Linked DNA regions of Homo sapiens. The protein of the gene in region 1 interacts with the protein of each later gene in a pairwise test. Each region holds a gene or a part of one and is shown in the gene's direction. Other genes may lie near its edges.

Region 1 (7,210 bases):
GCATAGAGCAAAGTACTGAAGTTAAGGTGCAAGTTCTTTGAATGTAAAGGGATATAAGTGGGCTTGAACCCTTTTCTAGTTCCAGTGGAAAGTGACTTGTTTTTGTTTATGTGAATGCTTTCAGGACAGGTAAAAAGTATAAGTTTCTCATCATCTAAAGCATGTTGTCATGTTTTATTAAAGCCATTAGACATCTAAAAAATGAAGCTGAGTGGCAAGAGATTTTGGCCAAAGTGAAAGAGGAAGAGGAAGAGCCATTACCATCTTACTTATTTAAGGTAAAAACAAAACATGTGATAGACCGGTATTGCTCCCCTTACAGTAGAGTAAAGCAACGCAGGAGGTGAAAGTGTAAAGCAGCCCCTGCAGTCGGTAAGAATGCCATGGTCTCTGAAGGAGGAGGGTGTGTTAAGGCTGGACTGATGATCATCCTTGTTTTCTTCTAACAGTTGTCTAGATTTTCTCCCCAAGTTCTCCTAAAGTAGTTTGAACCTTTTCTTTTTTACCCTTAACTACATAGTCTTAACTGATAAAATAAATTTGTTTTTTTCTCCAGATATTCCTTGTCTTTGAATGTAGAGAGTAGAAGCACTTCTGTGTGTTTTGTTTTTTCCTGGATAGTTTTTTCCAGAGTAGAAAATTATATTGGATAGTTTTGCACATTTAAAAAAAAGAAGAAAACTATAGGATTTACCAGAGCTGGACATTTCTGTTAATCACAGCTACATGTGAGTGTAAGATTGATACAGATACTATGTTTTCATCCCCTTTTGGTGTCTGCATTTCAGGACAAACAAGTTATTGGCATTCATACATTCTCTGTAAACATGAAATTGGAAGCTGTAGACCCCTGGTCTCCTTTTGGGATCTCTCCTGCTACAGTTGTTAAGGTAAAATGGAGATAACTCTCTTGGTAAGAATCCCTGTCAAGGTGACTGGTTTAGGAAATGGGTAGTGTTTTGATCTTTAAGCTCTATTGATCCAACCCATTTTTCCTTCTAGGCCGTGCAGCTAGAATTACTTCTGTGCACGTTTTGTATTTGTCCAGTTTGCTGTGGCCCATTCCTCCTTCAGAGCTTGGTAGCCCTAGCCAAAGCAGCCTTGGGCCTGGGCACTGGACTAGTAGGGGACGCATTCTTTGGGGCAGGCCTAGCTGCATATAAGTAAAGGAGATTTAACTCCTTTAGGAGGCCAGGGTATCTGTAAAGTTGGAGGCAGGCAGTCTCATCAACGTCTAACCAGATGCAGAGCTCATTGGAATGAGGAGATGAATGGGGATCAGGCAGTTAGTGTTAAAAGTTCTGGCAGTGGACTGGCTCCAGCTATGTATTCCAGATTCAGATTTAATCTTTTGGAATACTGACAAAACTAAGAAGTAAGGTTATCAAGGCCCTGCTCAGTCACTACAACTGAGGCATTGGCGAGAGAATTTCAGTTTCCAACTAGAGCAGAAGGACATTTACTGAAAATAGAAGCCAAAGTTGAATGTGACTAGAGGAATAGTTGCCTGGGTGCTAAATCCTCTGACCTATTGAGATTTAAGTTTTCCCTGTCTTGGAAGAAGATTATTCTCAAAGCAAGGAGGGATTCTGAGCCTGCAGGTGGGGCCAGAAGGCCCTACCTAGAGTCTGAAGGGAGGGCTAGTGGGAAGCCAGAGGAAGTTCATAAAGTTATCTCTTTGGCCGGGTGTGGTGGCTCACGCCTGTCATCCCAGCACTTTGGGACGCCGGGGCAGGCAGATCACCTGAGGTCAGGAGTTCAAGACCAGCCTGACCAACATGGAGAAACCCCATCTCTACTAAAAATACAAAATTAGCTGGACATGGTGGTGCATGCCTGTAATCCCAGCTGCTCGGGAGGCTGAGGTGAGAGAATCGCTTGAACCCGGGAGGCGGAGGTTACGGTGAGCCAAGATTGTGCCATTGCACTCCAGCCTGGGCAACAAGAGCGAAACTCCGTCTCTAAATAAATAAATAAATAAAGTTCGTTCTTTGGCATTTGAAACTGGGCTAGGATTTGAAAAACTAATACATAGTAGCATAAGCTTAAACTAAGTTTGTCACTAAGCTTAGAATAAATTTTGTTTGGAGCCAAACTACATGGCTTTGGATCCAGGTTTTGCTTCTTCTTTGTTTTGTAACCCAGGGCAAGTTATTTAACCTCTGTTTGAACTCATTCTCCTTATCTGTGAAATGGAGTTGATAAAGGTACTTGGGCCAGGTGTGGTGGCTCATGCATGTAATCCCAGCACTTTGGGAGGCTGAGGCAGGAGGATTGCTTGAGCCCAGGAGTTTGAGACAAGCCTGGGCAATATATGGAGACCGAGTCTCTACAAAAATTAAAAAAAATTAGCTGGGCATGGTGGTGCATGCCTGTTGTCCCAGCTACTCAAGGGACTGAAGTGGGAGGATCAACTGAGCCCAGGAAGTCAAGACTGCAGTGCTTCGGTGAGCCAAATTCATGCCACTGCACTCCAGCCTGGGTAAGAGAGCAAGACCCTGTCTCCAAAAAAAAACAAACAAACTATATATATATGTGTGTGTGTGTATATATGTATATATGTGTATATATATATATATATGTATATATATGTATATATGTATATATATGTATATATGTATATATATGTATATATGTATATATATGTATATGTACTTACCTCATTCAGTTGTTAAGATTAAAACTGAATTGATACATGAAAAGCATTTAATTAAAACAGTAATTATATGTATTACATAACACAGAGCTAACATTTAGTGTTTAGTATTATTAATACCCACATGAGTATGAACTTTTGTAATATGTTTGGCTGTGCCAAGGAGAAAGCACATATATATGTGTGCATTTGTCTATTTCATCTATTAATTGCATGTATAGGTTTTTGATGAGAAGTACTTTCTGGTGGAAATGGATGACTTGCGTCCTGAGAACCACGCACGGCGATCCTTTGTGTGCCACGCCGACAGTCCTGGCATCTTCCCTGTGCAGTGGAGTCTGAAGAATGGCCTACACATCAGCCCCCCTCCAGGTGCACATTCGCTGTCTTCTGAATTGTCACTTGAGAGCTTCTCCTTGAAATGAGACATGTCAGATGGCATTGCTGAAATCTTTTGTCCCTCTCCTCCTGCCCTAGCCTGTTCCTAACGTTTTTGGGGTCTGAGAAAAGTATAAGGAAAGGTCTAGATTCCATGTATTTACATATTTGAAAGTTACAAACTGAGCTAAAAAACTGTTAAAGAGAGTGCGTTCTATCCTCTGACTTTGATATCTATGTCCTCATAACCCCCTGGAAAACCAGGTTCCAACCTGGGTTCGTGCTGGCTCCTTAGTCCCTTTTATGTCTGTTAGGGGTGGCAGAGGGGTGAGCTTGGATGCACAGCAAGCACTGGGGGCTGGCTTGTGAGAAGAGGCCGTAGAGCCAGAGTTAGAAGGTAGATTACTGATTATCTTTAGGTGTCTGAGCCTTGTCATGGAGGGGACTTTCTACAGAGAAGTTTATGGTGAAGAGTAGAACTCAGGGAGTAGGTAGGAAAATAAAAGCTCATTTTCCTGATATTTGCAACTTTGCAAAATATAGTCTTTGATCCTTTAATCAAGGCCCTTAATTAATGGGTTAGTTGAGCTTGACTGAAATTTTTAATATTTTTAAACTTAGAGAATCTAGAATATGTCAGATGTTTATCTGATTTTTTAATATTAGCAAATCAGATTATTTGATTGGCAGTCTATATATGTTATTAGTAGGTTTTCAGTAAAGCATAGCATCACTTTTCTAAATGGTGACTGCTGGAACACTGGGCTGGAAGTACTCTTTCTTGTTAACAAGGGTCATAAACTCAGAACCTTTGTCTTCCATTCAGCTTTTATTCATTCAACAAACATTCATGTGAAGTTTGCTGTAAGCCAGGCATTGAGCTTATCCCTGGGGAGAGTGACAAGCTCAATGAGTACAACTCGGTCCCTTCAAGGGGCAAATAGGGGGAAATATTAACAGAACTTCCTAGAGTCTCCTCCATCAGTGAACACAGCAGATGAATGCCTGGTTGGAGGGTGTGGTGTAGAACAGCCATAGAAGGAAGTTCTTGCTTTGCAGGCACGCTCTAGATATCCCAAGTTCTTTATTCTGCTTGCCACCTCTATGTGAAAAAGAAGGAACAGTTGTTAAAAATACTGAAGCTTTCAGTGTTGTTATAGACAAATCAACTGTGTCTTTGTAAATAGAGGGAAGGTAGTAGATTACATAACTGAAAATGGCAGAAAATGTACTGTCAGGCATTGAGGTTGGGGCAAAGGGAGAACATGGTGCCAGTCTTCGGTAGGCAGGGACTGTTGGGCTGTCAGAGGGCATAGACTTGAGTAGCCTATTTTTTTGCCTGTGAGACATTAAGCTCTCTGGAGGCTGAGAGCAACTCAGACACAGTAGGCAGTTGGGCCTCGCTCAGCTCTTTGCATGTAGATGGTGCTGAGTCAGCAGCAGCTTGGAGATGCTTCCATCAAGAACCTCAGTAGACTTAAGTGGGGTGCTAAGCTTGATTTTTCTGAAATAAATACATGATTTAGATTATAAAAGCATTGATATTCTGTAATATATGAATCTGAAAATGACAAGAGGATTTGTATCAGTGATATCTGAGACACATTTCAGGAAACAGCTTTAACAAAGAAAAAAAGTCTTCGTCTTTGCAGATTAACTAATACTATTTGCTGTCTCTTTTCCTTGAGAGCCCGAGTCCCTTTAGAATTGACAATAAGAGTGGATTTATATATACAAATCAAATCCAGTCATAACTGTCTTAAATTCTTTTGGTAAATTGCCAGCAACTAATCATATAAAATAGTGCTCAAAATAAATGCCTAGTTTGAAATTTGAAAGTTTACAAATTTATCCAGAGTCTGATTGTCTTATTACAGTTTGACCAGAGTTGCTCTATTTTATAAAATTAACAGTGCTCTAGATTTATAGAATGCTTTTCGCCCCTCTAAAATGATCAAAGTTGTCAGACTAGCATCACTGGAAGTTGTGAGTGGACCCTTGGTGAGGGGTGAAGCCAGGCAGGCGTATGTGGTGTGGTAGTGTGACTCATTGTTCATTTGTCCCCACCTAGGCTACCCAAGCCAGGACTTTGACTGGGCTGACTACCTCAAACAGTGTGGTGCTGAAGCTGCTCCCCAGAGGTGCTTCCCTCCGGTGAGGACCCCCACGGCCTCATGGCCACTATGGCAGGGCTGCAGGGACTGCTGTGCTTCCCTTGCTTTCCATGTTATTGCTCTGAAGATAATCATCTCACTTAATCCAGATGAGCACAGTGGTGATTGTAATCACATGGTCTAAAGGAAAATACATTTACTGCAGAAGTGAATCAGTTAGTTTGCTAATTAAGTTAGTTTTATAAGTTTATTGGTTTTATTTTTTCTTAGCTGAAATCGTGAATTTGAAATTTTATGATTATTTTTCATGGTTCAATAATAGGAAAAACTGTTGAAATATTAAGTGGAGAAAAATTGTTAAGCTTATTTAAATTCTTCTATCCAAATAATACATGCATGTGGTTTAAAGAGCCATGTAGCAGTAAAAGGCTTAGAAGGTAAAATAGCAGTCCCTGCCCTACCCCGTTTCACAGTCTCCCTTCCCAGAAATAACTACTTCCTGTTCTTCTCACTGTAATTCTAGTTATTTGTATTTCTTCATTTTCAAAATAAAAACCTTCTATCTTTTGAGTCATTTATTTTAGACATGTCACTTGGTTCTAATTTAAAAACTTTGACTTTATTAAAACAAATTAAATTCACCCTGTCTTATGGTGCTGAGTCTGTTGGTTCTAAATTATGATAAATGAGCATTTAATTATTTTTTATTACCTTTCCTCTCTGTCTTACCACATTCTTCTTCCTTTAGAGTTATATTACAATTTTTGGTTAAATACAAAATGAGTTTTTACATTATGATATGCATTCAGATATTACAGCTGAGCACTGCAGTTTTGTTTTGTTTTGTTTTGAGACAGAGTCTTGCTCTGTCACCCAGGCTGGAGTGCAGTGGCACGATCTCAGCTCACTATAGCCTCCGCCTCCCGGGTTCAAGAGATTCTCCTGCCTCGGCCTCCCAAGTAGCTGGGATTACAGGCGCCCACCAGCACACTCGCCTAATTTTCATTTTTATAGTAGAGATGAGGTTTCACCATGTTGGCCAGGCTGGTCTCGAACTCCTGACCTCAAGTGATCTGCCCACCTCAGCCTCCCAAAGTGCTGGGATTACAGGTATGAGCCACTGCACCTGGCACTGCAGTATTTTATGATTGTTTCTTTTTAAAAATTTTTATCCTCAATAATAATTGCCTTGTTTTTAATTTACTTAATTTTATCTATTGCTGCTGCTGTCCACACTTCCCAGTAGTCTCTCATTATCAAAAGCAGTCACATCAAGAAATCTGTCATTCCTAACACTTTTGTTAAAGAGACATCCCTCTTAGCAACCTCCACTCTCTGTCTGGATGGGTTGCTCTTTAAAGGTTTGCCATGTAGTTTTTGTGGGTTTTGTTGTTGTTGTTGTTGTTGTTGTTTGTTTTTTGTTCTTCTTAGACAGAATCTTGCTCTTGTCGCCCAGGCTGGAGTGTAGTGGTACGATCTCAGCTCACTGCAACCTCCGCCTCCCGGGTTCAATAGATTGTCCTGCCTCACCCTCCTGAGTAGCTGGAATTATAGGCGCCCGCCACCATGCCTGGCTAATTTTTGTATTTTTAGCAGAGACTGGGTTTCACCATGTTGGCCAGGCTGGTCTCAAACTCCTGACCTCAGATGATCTTCCCGCCTCAGCCTCCCGTAGTGCTGGGATTACAAGTGTGAGCCACTGTGCCGGCCTTGCCATGTAGTTTTAATCATGGAAATGCCCTTGTCACCCAGGGAATTGCCCACTCCCCTTTTGTATGATTTGGGGTCCCTTGTTTTGTAGAGATCTCATGGCCTCCTCTTTCTTGGTTTGCTTCCTTGTTTTGATGGATCCCCATCTCTCAGTACCTTCCTGTAACAGGGTACAAGGGAAGTAAATTTTTTTTGACACTGTATATTTGAAAATGTCTTCACTCTACTGACTTGCTTCATAGTTTGGCTCAATGTGGAAGTTATTTTGCTTGAGAATTCGGAAAACATTGCTCAGTTGTTTTCTAACTTCTAGTGTTACTATCAAGAAGTTAAAAGCTATAAAGCTATTTTT
Region 2 (7,000 bases), on another chromosome or scaffold:
CTCTGCCTCCTTAAGTTCAAACAATTCTCCTGCCTCAGCTTCCTGAGTAGCTGAGATTACAGGTGTGTGCCACCAAGCCTGGCAATTTTTGTTTTAGTAGAGACGGGTTTCACCATGTTGGCCACGCTGGTCTCGAATTTCTGACCTCAAGCAATCCGCCCACCTCAGCCCCACAAAGTGCTGGGATTATGGGAATGAGCCACCGCACCTGGCCATCTTTTTTGGTTTTTTTTAAGAGACAGAATCAGGCAGGGTGCAGTGGCTCATGCCCGTAATCCCAGCACTTTGGGAGGCCGAAGTAGGTGGATCACTTGAGGCCAGGAGTTTGAGACCAGCCTGGCCAACATGGCAAAACCCCACCTCTACAAAAAATACAAAAATTAGCCGGGCGTGATAGTGCATGCCTGTAGTCTCAACTACTCAGGAGGCTGAGGCAGGAGAATTGCTTGAACCTGGGAGGCTTGTGGTGAGCCGAGATCGTGCCACTGCACTCTTGGCCTGGGCAACAGAGTGAGACTTCATCTTTAAAAAAAAAAAAAAAGAGAATCTCCCTCTGTCACCCAAGTTGAAGTGCAGTGGTGCAATCATAGCTTACTGTAGCCTCAAACTCCTGGGCTCAATTGCACCTCCTATCTCAGCTTCCCAAGTAGCTGGGACTACAGCTGTTTGCCACCACACGCGGCTAATTTTTGTAGTTTTTTTTAGAGACAGGGTTTCACCATGTTGCCCAGGCTAGTCTCAAACTTCTGAGCTCAAGTTATCTGCCTCCCTTGGCCTCCCAAAGTGCTGGGATTACAAGCGTGAACCACCAGGCCTGGCCCTGGCTAATTTTTCAAAATTTGTTGTAGAGATTGAGTCTTGCTGTGTTGTCCTGCCTGGCTGGTCTCAAATTCCTGGCCTCAAGCAATCTTTCCACCGTGGCCTCCCAAAATGCTGGGATTACAGACCTGAGCCATTTCAGCTGGTCAGCTTGACCCCCTTGTTGATTCTCTGATTTTTTTTTTTTTTTTTTGAGATGGAGTCTCACCCTGTTGCCCAGGCTGGAGTACGATGGCGCAATCTCGGCTCACTGCAACCTCCGCCTCCCAGGTTCAAATGATTCTCCTGCCTCAGCCTCCCATGTAGCTGGGATTACAGGTGCCCACCACCACGCCCAGCTAATTTTTGTATTTTTAGTAGAGACAGGGTTTCACCATGTTGGCCAGGCTGGTCTCAAACTCCTGACCTCCTGATCCACCTGCCTCAGCCTCCCAAAGTGCTGGGATTACAGGCGTGAGCCACTGCTCCCGGCCTGATTTTCTGATTCTTTTTTTTTTTTTTTTTTTGAGACAGAGTCTCACTCTGTCACCCAGACTGGAGTGCAGTGGCGCAATCTCGGCTCACTGCAAGCTTTGCCTCCCAGGTTCACACCATTCTCCTGCCTCAGTCTCCCCAGTAGCTGGGACTACAGGCACCCACCACCACGCCCGGCTAATTTTTTATATTTTTAGTAGAGACAGGGTTTCACCGTGTTAGCCAGGATGGTCTCGATCTCCTGACCTCGTGATCCGCCTGCCTTAGCCTCCCAAAGTGCTGGGATTACAGGTGTGAGCCACCACACCTGGCTGATTTTCCGATTCTTAAAGAAGCTTGTTAAAAATGTTTTGACGGTCTTTTCTAGTTCTGAGCTGGAAAGTAGTCTGAATGCCCTAGTCTCACATAACTGGAACAGAATTGAGGAGCCAAGATTTGAATTCAACTGTATCTTAACTTCAAGGTCTATGCTTTTAACCATTTATTATATGTATTAATCCATTTTCACACTGCTGATAAAGACATACCCAAGACTGGGCAATTTACACAACAAAAAAGTTTATTGGAATCACAGTTCAGCATGTCTGGGGAGGCCTCACAATCATGGCAGAAGGCAAGGAGGAACAAGTCACATCTTACATGGACGGCAGCAAGAAAAGAGAGAGAGACTGTGCAGGGAAACTCCTGTGGTTTTTTGTTTTTTTTTTTTTTTGTGAGACGGAGTCTCGCTCTGTTGCCCAGGCTGGAGTGCAGTGGTGCAACCTTGGCTCACTGCAAGCTCTGCCTCCCGGGTTCATACCATTCTCCTGCCTCAGCCTCCTGAGTAGCTGGGACTACAGGCGCCCACCACCACGCTTGGCTAATTTTTTTGTATTTTTAGTGGAGATGGGGTTTCACCATGTTAGCCAGGATGGTCTCAATCTCCTGACCTCGTAATCCGCCTGCCTTAGCCTCCCAAAGTGCTGGGATTATAGGTGTGAGCCACCACACCCAGCCGGAAACTCCTATTTTTAAAACCATCAGATCTTGTGAGATTTATTCACTATCACAAGAACAGCACAGGAAAGACTTGCCCCTATGATTAAGTTACCTCCCACCAGGTTTCTCCCACAACATGTGGGAATTCAAGATGAGATTTAGATGGGGACACAGCCAAACCATGTCATTACACTTATTATACTTTGTTGTATTAAATCTCACAAGGGTAAAATGTTGATTTTTATGAATTGGACCATAAGAGTAAACATAATTTTATCCTTTATATTTTTTTATAGTTTTTAGGGTGAAAGTCACAAGACAGAATTTTAAGGCTTGTATTCTGTTTTTTGTTCTGTAGTGAAGCAAATAAGCAACATGTAAGATGTCAGAAATGCTTGGAATTTGGACATTGGACTTATGAATGCACAGGAAAAAGAAAATACCTACATAGGCCCTCAAGGACAGCAGAACTAAAGAAAGCTTTAAAAGAAAAAGAAAACAGATTATTATTGCAACAAAGGTAGGTTTACATGTGGTATCCAAAGGAATATTTTTTTAATGTGTATATAGAATTTATTAAAGGACCAAACGTTTCATGGTGGTTCTCCAGATTTTAATTATAATGTTACTAATGTTTAATAGATGCTTACTGTGTGCCAAGTACTATTCTAGGGTCTTTATAAGTATTAGCTTATTTAAACCTGATATCTACACTATTAAGGTAGGTAGTATTATTGTCTTCATTTTACATATGAAGAAACTAAAGCAAGGAGATGTTGAATAACTTACTCATTGTCATACAGCTAGTAAGAAGAAAAAGTAAGTGTTAAATCATGCAGCCTGTCCCCCAGATTCATGGTCTTAATCATTTTGCTTTTTTGCCTCAACTGTCAATGAAATGACAATTGAATTAACCGATAGATTATATGAGCTGACATGGAAAGCTATCCAAGAAGTACCAGGTATATTAATTAAGGTAGAGAACAGAATATATAATATGCTATGATTTATGTTTATAAAAAGAAGAATTGGCTGGGCGGGGTGGCTCACACCTATAATCCCAACACTTTGGGAGGCCGACGCCTGGCCAACATGGTGAAATTCCATCCCTACTAAAAATACAAAAATTAGCCGGGCATAGTGGCAGGTACCTGTAATCCCAGCTACTCAGGAGGCTGAGGCAAGAGAATCACTTGAACCTGGGAGGTGGAAGTTTTGGTGAGCTGAGATTGTGCCACTGCATTCCCGACTGGGCAACAGAGGGAGACTCTGTCTCAAAAAAAAAAAAAAAAAAAAAAAAGCAGCATCTTCCTAAGGGCTGTTAGCTGTATAATAGTGTCTTAAATATTTAGACTTTCAAGGCAACAGTCTTCCAATTTGTGACGTGAAAGTTCTTCAAGCGTTATGCAGGAATAGATAACCAATTTCTAGATTATCAACATTCATATACAATTCTTCCTAAAACAAATCTGATGAGAACTTGCCTACTGGTCTCCTTTTCTACTTCCCCTTTTCTAACAACGCTTCTCTAATCTCACAAAAGAAAGGTATACCTCTCACCCATCTCTAACATACCTTAGTGTATTGTCCTCACGTATAAAAACCTAGATGGCAGAATAGTGGTGTTTGTGCTGAGAAAGTGAATGGTCATAATAGTTTTGTTTGTTTGTTTTGAGACAGAGTCTCACTGTGTCATCCAATCTGGAGTGCAGTCTCAGCTCACTGCAACCTCCACCTCCTGGGTTCAAGTAATTCTCCCACCTCAGCCTCCCCAGTAGCTGAGACTTCAGATGCACACCACCACGCCTGGCTAATTTTTTGTATTTTTGGTAGAGATGGGATTTTGCCATGTTGCCCAGGGTGGTCTCAAACTCCTGAGCTCTAGCAATCCACCCACCTCAGCCTCCCAAAGTGCTGGGATTATAGGCATGAGCCACCATGCCCAGCTGGCCATAATTTTTTAGAGTAAAAAATTTTTTTTTTGAGACAGAGTCTTGCTCTGTCACCCAGGCTGGAGTGCAGTGGTGCGATCTCAGCTCACTTCGACCTCTGCTTCCCAGGTTCATGTGATTGTGCCTCAGCCTCCGGAGTAGCTGGGAGTATAGGTGCGTGCAACAACACCTGGCTAATTTTTTGTATTTTTAGTAGAGACTGGGTTTCACCATGTTAGCCAGGATGGTCTCGATCTCCTGACCTCATGATCTGCCCGCCTCGGCCTCCCAAAGTGCTGGGATTACAGGCGTGAGCCACCGCACCCAGCTGAGAGTAAATTCTTTTTTAAGGTTTTTCCCTCAACAAAATTGAAGATGACCTAATTGAATTGTCAATTAAAAAGCATATTTTAATGGAATATTATTATGTGACTTGTGGCATATAACAGATGGAATGCAGAGAATCGAGTGACATGGAAATAACAAAAGTCTTTCCATTCCAATCAATCTATTTAGGTTAGGGTTTCTCTAGGTTAAATATGTAACACTTAAGAATTAAGCCGGGCACGGTGGCTTACACCTGTAATCCCAGCACTTTGGGAGGCCGAGGCAGGCAGATCACGAGGTCAGGAGATGGAGATCTTCCTGGCTAACACAGTGAAACCCTGTCTCTACTAAAAAGATACAAAAAATCAGCCGGGCGTGGTGGTGGGCACCTGTAGTCCCAGCTATTCGGGAGGCTGAGCCAGGAGAATGGCGTGAACCCGGAAGGCGGAGCTTGCAAGGGAGCCGAGATCGCGCCACTGCACTCTAGCCCGGGTGACAGAGCGAGACTCCGTCTCAGAAAATAAAAATAAAAATAAAATAAGAACTAAGCCGGGCGCGGTGGCTCATGCCTGTAATCCCAGCACTTTGGGAGGCCAAGGCGGGTGGATCACCTGAGGTTGGGAGTTTGAGACTAACATGACCAACATGGAGAAACCCCGTCTCTACTAAAAATACAAAATTATCCAGACGTGGTGGCGCATGCCCATAATCCCAGCTGCTTGGGAGGCTGAGGCAGGAGAATCACTTGAACCCGGGAGGCGGAGGTTGTGGTGAGCCGAGACTGCACCATTGCACTTCAGCCTAGGCAACGAGAGCGAAACTCCATCTCAAAAAAAAAAAAAGAAATTAAAAATAAGAAATAATTCCCAAGGAGCCATCTCTATTGAAAAAATAAAATTTAAAAATAGGAATTTAATTGATGCCAAACCTGGTCACATTCTACCATGAAGAAATATTTATTTATAGATACATAAACTAGAAAAAAATCTGTCATTAAGAAATGCATTTCCGGACTGGGCACAGTGGTTCATGCCTGTAATTCCAGCACTATGGGAGGCCGAGGTGGGTGGATCACTCGAGGTCAGGAGTTCGAGACCATCCTGGCCAACATGGCAAAACCCTGTCTCTACTAAAAATACAAAAATTAGCTAGGTGCGGTGGTGCACCCTGTAATCGCAGCTACTTGGGAAGCTGAGGCAGGAGGATCACTTGAACCCAGGAGGCAGAAGTTGCAGGGAGCTGAAATCACACCACTGCACTCCAGCCTGGGTGATACAGTGAGACTGTATCTCGCCAAAAATATATATATATACACATTACCAATAAGTTTGTTTTAATGTAATAGTTATTAAAATTTATACTATCAGCCAAATGCTGTGGCTCATGCCTGTAATCCCAGCACTTTGGGAGGCCAAGACAAGAGGATCACTTGGGGCCAGAAGTCTAAGAACAGCCTAGGCAACATAGCAAGATGCTGGGTTTTTTGGGTTTTTTTTCAACTTTCAGTTATTTATTAATCAGTGTAATCTCCAGTAGATTACCTCAACATGATTTCATGCATTTAGAGGAGAAATATTTCCTGTTAAGTGGAAAATTGTGCGGATGGCTTCTGGAAGACCTTCATTCTAAAGGAGCTTTATAGTAAAACATTTCATTTAGAAATCTGAACCTTCTTTCTTCAATTTGCTGTAATCCACATTCACTGAGTAGAACTTGTATTGATCATTGGGACCCAGTTTGTTCAGGGCTCTGGGTTAGTCTTTCTGTCCCAACAAACATCTGGATTGAACAATGTCAGAGGCGAGAGAAACAGTGCTGCTCCAATACCTCCAGTTCCAATAAATACAAAAAGGGGGATCAACTTCGCATGCTTCTTGGCCTGACCCATGATCTGGCGGAGAATGTTTGCAGCAGAAGCCTCCAACTGGAAAGGAGACAACCAGCCTAGCCACCAGGCCCTGGGCTAAGTAGTATCTGCCAAGACCCTGTTTCTTAAAAAAAGGCCGGGCGTGGTGGCTCACACCTGTAATCCCAACACTTTGGGAGGCCGAAGTGGGTGGATCGCCTGAGGTCAAGAGTTCGAGACCAGCCTGACCAACATGGTGAAACGCCATCTCTACTAAAAGTACAAAAATTAGCCAGGCATGGTGGCGGGCACCTGTAATCCCAGCTACTCAGGAGGCTGAGACAGGAAAATTGCTTGAACCCAGGAGGCAGAGGTTGAAGTAAGCCAAGATCATGCAACAGCACTCCCACCTGGGCGACAGAACGAGCCTCCACCTCAAAAAAAAGAAAAAGTATCAGCTGTTAAAAATGTTCATATGTTCTTATGTGAATAATAGGTATTAAATTATTGTAGAACTTTTTATAATATGTATATAATATGCCCTTTGCAAATATTAAAACTTAGAATTGCAAGTATGAGTTTTCCAGAAATTATTTTATTAGGAATGTAAGCAAAAAAATGTTTG
Region 3 (2,703 bases), on another chromosome or scaffold:
AAGCCTGGGCCCACGTTTGGCTCCATCCTTTCCACACAGCCTCTCACCTGGAGGTGTCTATAGCAATGGCTGGCCCATCTGTGACACCCTTCCTGGGAGCTTGAAGACCCAGGTGGCCTCTTCTCCAGTGCAAGATGGGGAGTGGAGACCAAGGGAGTGCCCTCTTGATCTGGGGCCCTTCACCCCCTTCCTTTCTTTGATTCTATCGCTGCTTCTCTTTCAGCCAACCCCTCCGCCAACTGGCTGCACGCTCGCTCTTCCCGGAAAAAGCGCTGTCCCTACACCAAATACCAGACGCTGGAGCTAGAGAAGGAGTTTCTGTTCAATATGTACCTCACCAGGGACCGTAGGCACGAAGTGGCCAGACTCCTCAATCTGAGTGAGAGACAAGTCAAAATCTGGTTTCAGAACCGGCGGATGAAAATGAAGAAAATGAATAAGGAGCAGGGCAAAGAGTAAAGATTAAAGATTACCCCCAGTCCTCCCTAGCTCTTCCCCATCTCACTCTTAGTTATGTGACGACTGCAAAGCCAGTGCTGTCTGGGATGTATTCAAGTGAATGGGGAAGGGAGTCTCTCTTCCAAGTCCTTTATCTGCACCTAGAACCTCCCTCCTTTCCTTTGCCCTTACCTGTCTCTCTCTTCTCTCTAGGTGTCAGGAGAAAGTTTTGTTGATTTAGAAGATAGAAATAGTTGGTTCCTAAGAATGTGATGGGCCACAAGGAAAGAGAGACCCCAGTCAAGCTCCTAGTATGCCCTGTAATTTTTCTGGGAAGTCCTAGCCCCTCACTTCCAGCTTGCCTGTTTCTTCTCTACACCCACCCAAAAGTCACCCAGGGACACTCCAACTCTACACAGCTCAGCAGACATCCACACACAGTAATGGGGTGAGCTCACAACCACCATTCAGTCAAGTGAGGTGACACTCCAGTTGCAGACCATCGCACACCAAATTTGGCAAAACAGCCCTCAGACTGTCAGGCAAGCCCGGGTTCTACCCCTAATGCAAATACCCACCAGGGAGATGTCTAGAGGCAGACTCCTGAGTGAGGTGTTGCAGCCCAAAGGCTGCAGCATTGCCATACCATTCCCATGGAGTTGCCAACTATTCTCAGGCCAAGGGCCATGGGGAAGATGGAGCAAACCTAGCCCCCAAGCCGGTGGGCTAGAAAGTACAAGAAAAGGCAGCACGTGGTTTTATGAAGCTATCTTAGGTGGAGCTACTCCCCACCTCCCACCAACATATACATTTTGTTGCAGGAAATGTTTAATTCCGCATGATGTTTCCCTCTCCTTCCAACAAAAGAAGGTCAAACTGTGGGTCGTAGAGCCTTGACAATGTTGTCCTCCTGTTCATCTGTGCACCACTTGACAGACTGTAGCTTCTCTTGCTCTCGACCGGCCCTGCATTCTTCCGCACCCTCCCTAGCTCTGAAATCAACTCTCTTCGGTCGTATCCACCTTGCACCCGCAAGTCAAGCCGCCCCTTGTAGAAAAATCCCTCCACCTTCCGTTCCCCGCTAGGTCAACCCCACTGTAGACAGGAAAGCCAGGCCAGGAGAGTCCGAATGAGAATTTATTGTGAATCGATTCCCAAGCTCCCTTCCGGGACAAGTGGTCTGGGACAGGGAGGAGCAACGGCCCCAGCGCGCAACGCTCTGCGCGTTCCTCCGAATCCCGTCGGCTTCTCGACCCACGCAGAGAAGCCCCGGGCTTGGCGGCTCTAGCCCCAGCGCCAAAGGAGACCCGCCCCAGGGCCGGGCTTGGCCTCCTGCTTCATGGGCCTGGATGCAGATCTGCGTGGCTGGTGCGTGCGCGCGCTTCTGGGAAACAGTCCCGCGTGCAAAGGAAAGGGGCAAAATGGCACCTAAGCATCAGATGGAAGCTTACTCTCTGCTTCCGTTCCTCCCCCTGCTCCCCTACTTCTCAGTCCCCTTCAATTTGTAGACTCTTGCTCCTGCTTCTCCTGATCCTGCAAGGGGACATTCCAGTAGAAGTTTTTTGCTTTGTCGGTGGCTGTCGTGAAATTGTGCTTGTGTTTCGTGATTTCTTTGGGGGTGATTGTCTCGCTTGTTTTCAGTTGTCGATTATATGGGAGGGTTCTGGGTGGGAGTGGGGAGGGCGAGGGGCCTAGAGCTCTAATTGTTTGTTTTGGAAGAAAAAAAGAAAAAGAACAAAAAATATATATCACTCTAGAAAATAAATCTCTCCTGTGTCTTATTCTGTGTTGGCTCTCTGGGCCTGACCATAGGTAGAGATCCCAGTTGTCGGGAGAAAGGCTTGGAAAAAAAAAGATTGCTGAGTCCAGGAGGTTTCTCCTTACACCCTGCAGGGCAAGGTCCCCTGCAGAGCTCTCTAGAGGTGGAGCTGAGAGCCAGTCCCAGACCCCAGGTCCCAAGACTACTGGTTAAACTGATCAAGAGCCTTCCAACAGGAGAACTGGAAAACGAGCGGGGAGGGAAGGAAATGTGGGTTGTTTGGAGAGGGCACAGGGTCTGGGGAGCAATGAGGTCCTGAAACCTCCTCATTGACTAGAGAATAGGAGGGAAGGTAGGTCTTCCTGCACCTCCTGGGGGTAGCTCTCCTCCCTCAGCCACTGAGAATGTCACCTTAGTTTGGCCGCTTTAAAATATGATGCAAGGGAGGAACACAGTAATTTCCCTCTGTTCTTCCCTGCAGTAGGGTGCCTAGGTCTAGACAGAGG

What was found. Proteins that work in one complex are often made in the same cells at the same time.
Region 2: the proteins of SFMBT1 (region 1) and ZCCHC10 interact in binary tests that used the Homo sapiens proteins (3 or more experiments, as listed by UniProt).
Region 3: the proteins of SFMBT1 (region 1) and HOXB9 interact in binary tests that used the Homo sapiens proteins (3 or more experiments, as listed by UniProt).

Annotation. Positions count from the first base shown.
Region 1 is NC_000003.12:52,924,009-52,931,218, reverse strand, and holds part of SFMBT1 (scm-like with four MBT domains protein 1), read left to right. Parts: intron 1-183; coding exon 184-278; intron 279-788; coding exon 789-890; intron 891-2,877; coding exon 2,878-3,028; intron 3,029-5,105; coding exon 5,106-5,188; intron 5,189-7,210. UniProt on the Homo sapiens protein: Histone-binding protein, which is part of various corepressor complexes. Mediates the recruitment of corepressor complexes to target genes, followed by chromatin compaction and repression of transcription.
Region 2 is NC_000005.10:133,002,550-133,009,549, reverse strand, and holds part of ZCCHC10 (zinc finger CCHC domain-containing protein 10), read left to right. Parts: intron 1-2,629; coding exon 2,630-2,791; intron 2,792-6,184; exon of another isoform or gene 6,185-6,453; intron 6,454-7,000.
Region 3 is NC_000017.11:48,620,656-48,623,358, reverse strand, and holds the end of HOXB9 (homeobox protein Hox-B9), read left to right. Parts: intron 1-223; coding exon 224-459; 3' UTR 460-2,203; downstream 2,204-2,703. UniProt on the Homo sapiens protein: Sequence-specific transcription factor which is part of a developmental regulatory system that provides cells with specific positional identities on the anterior-posterior axis.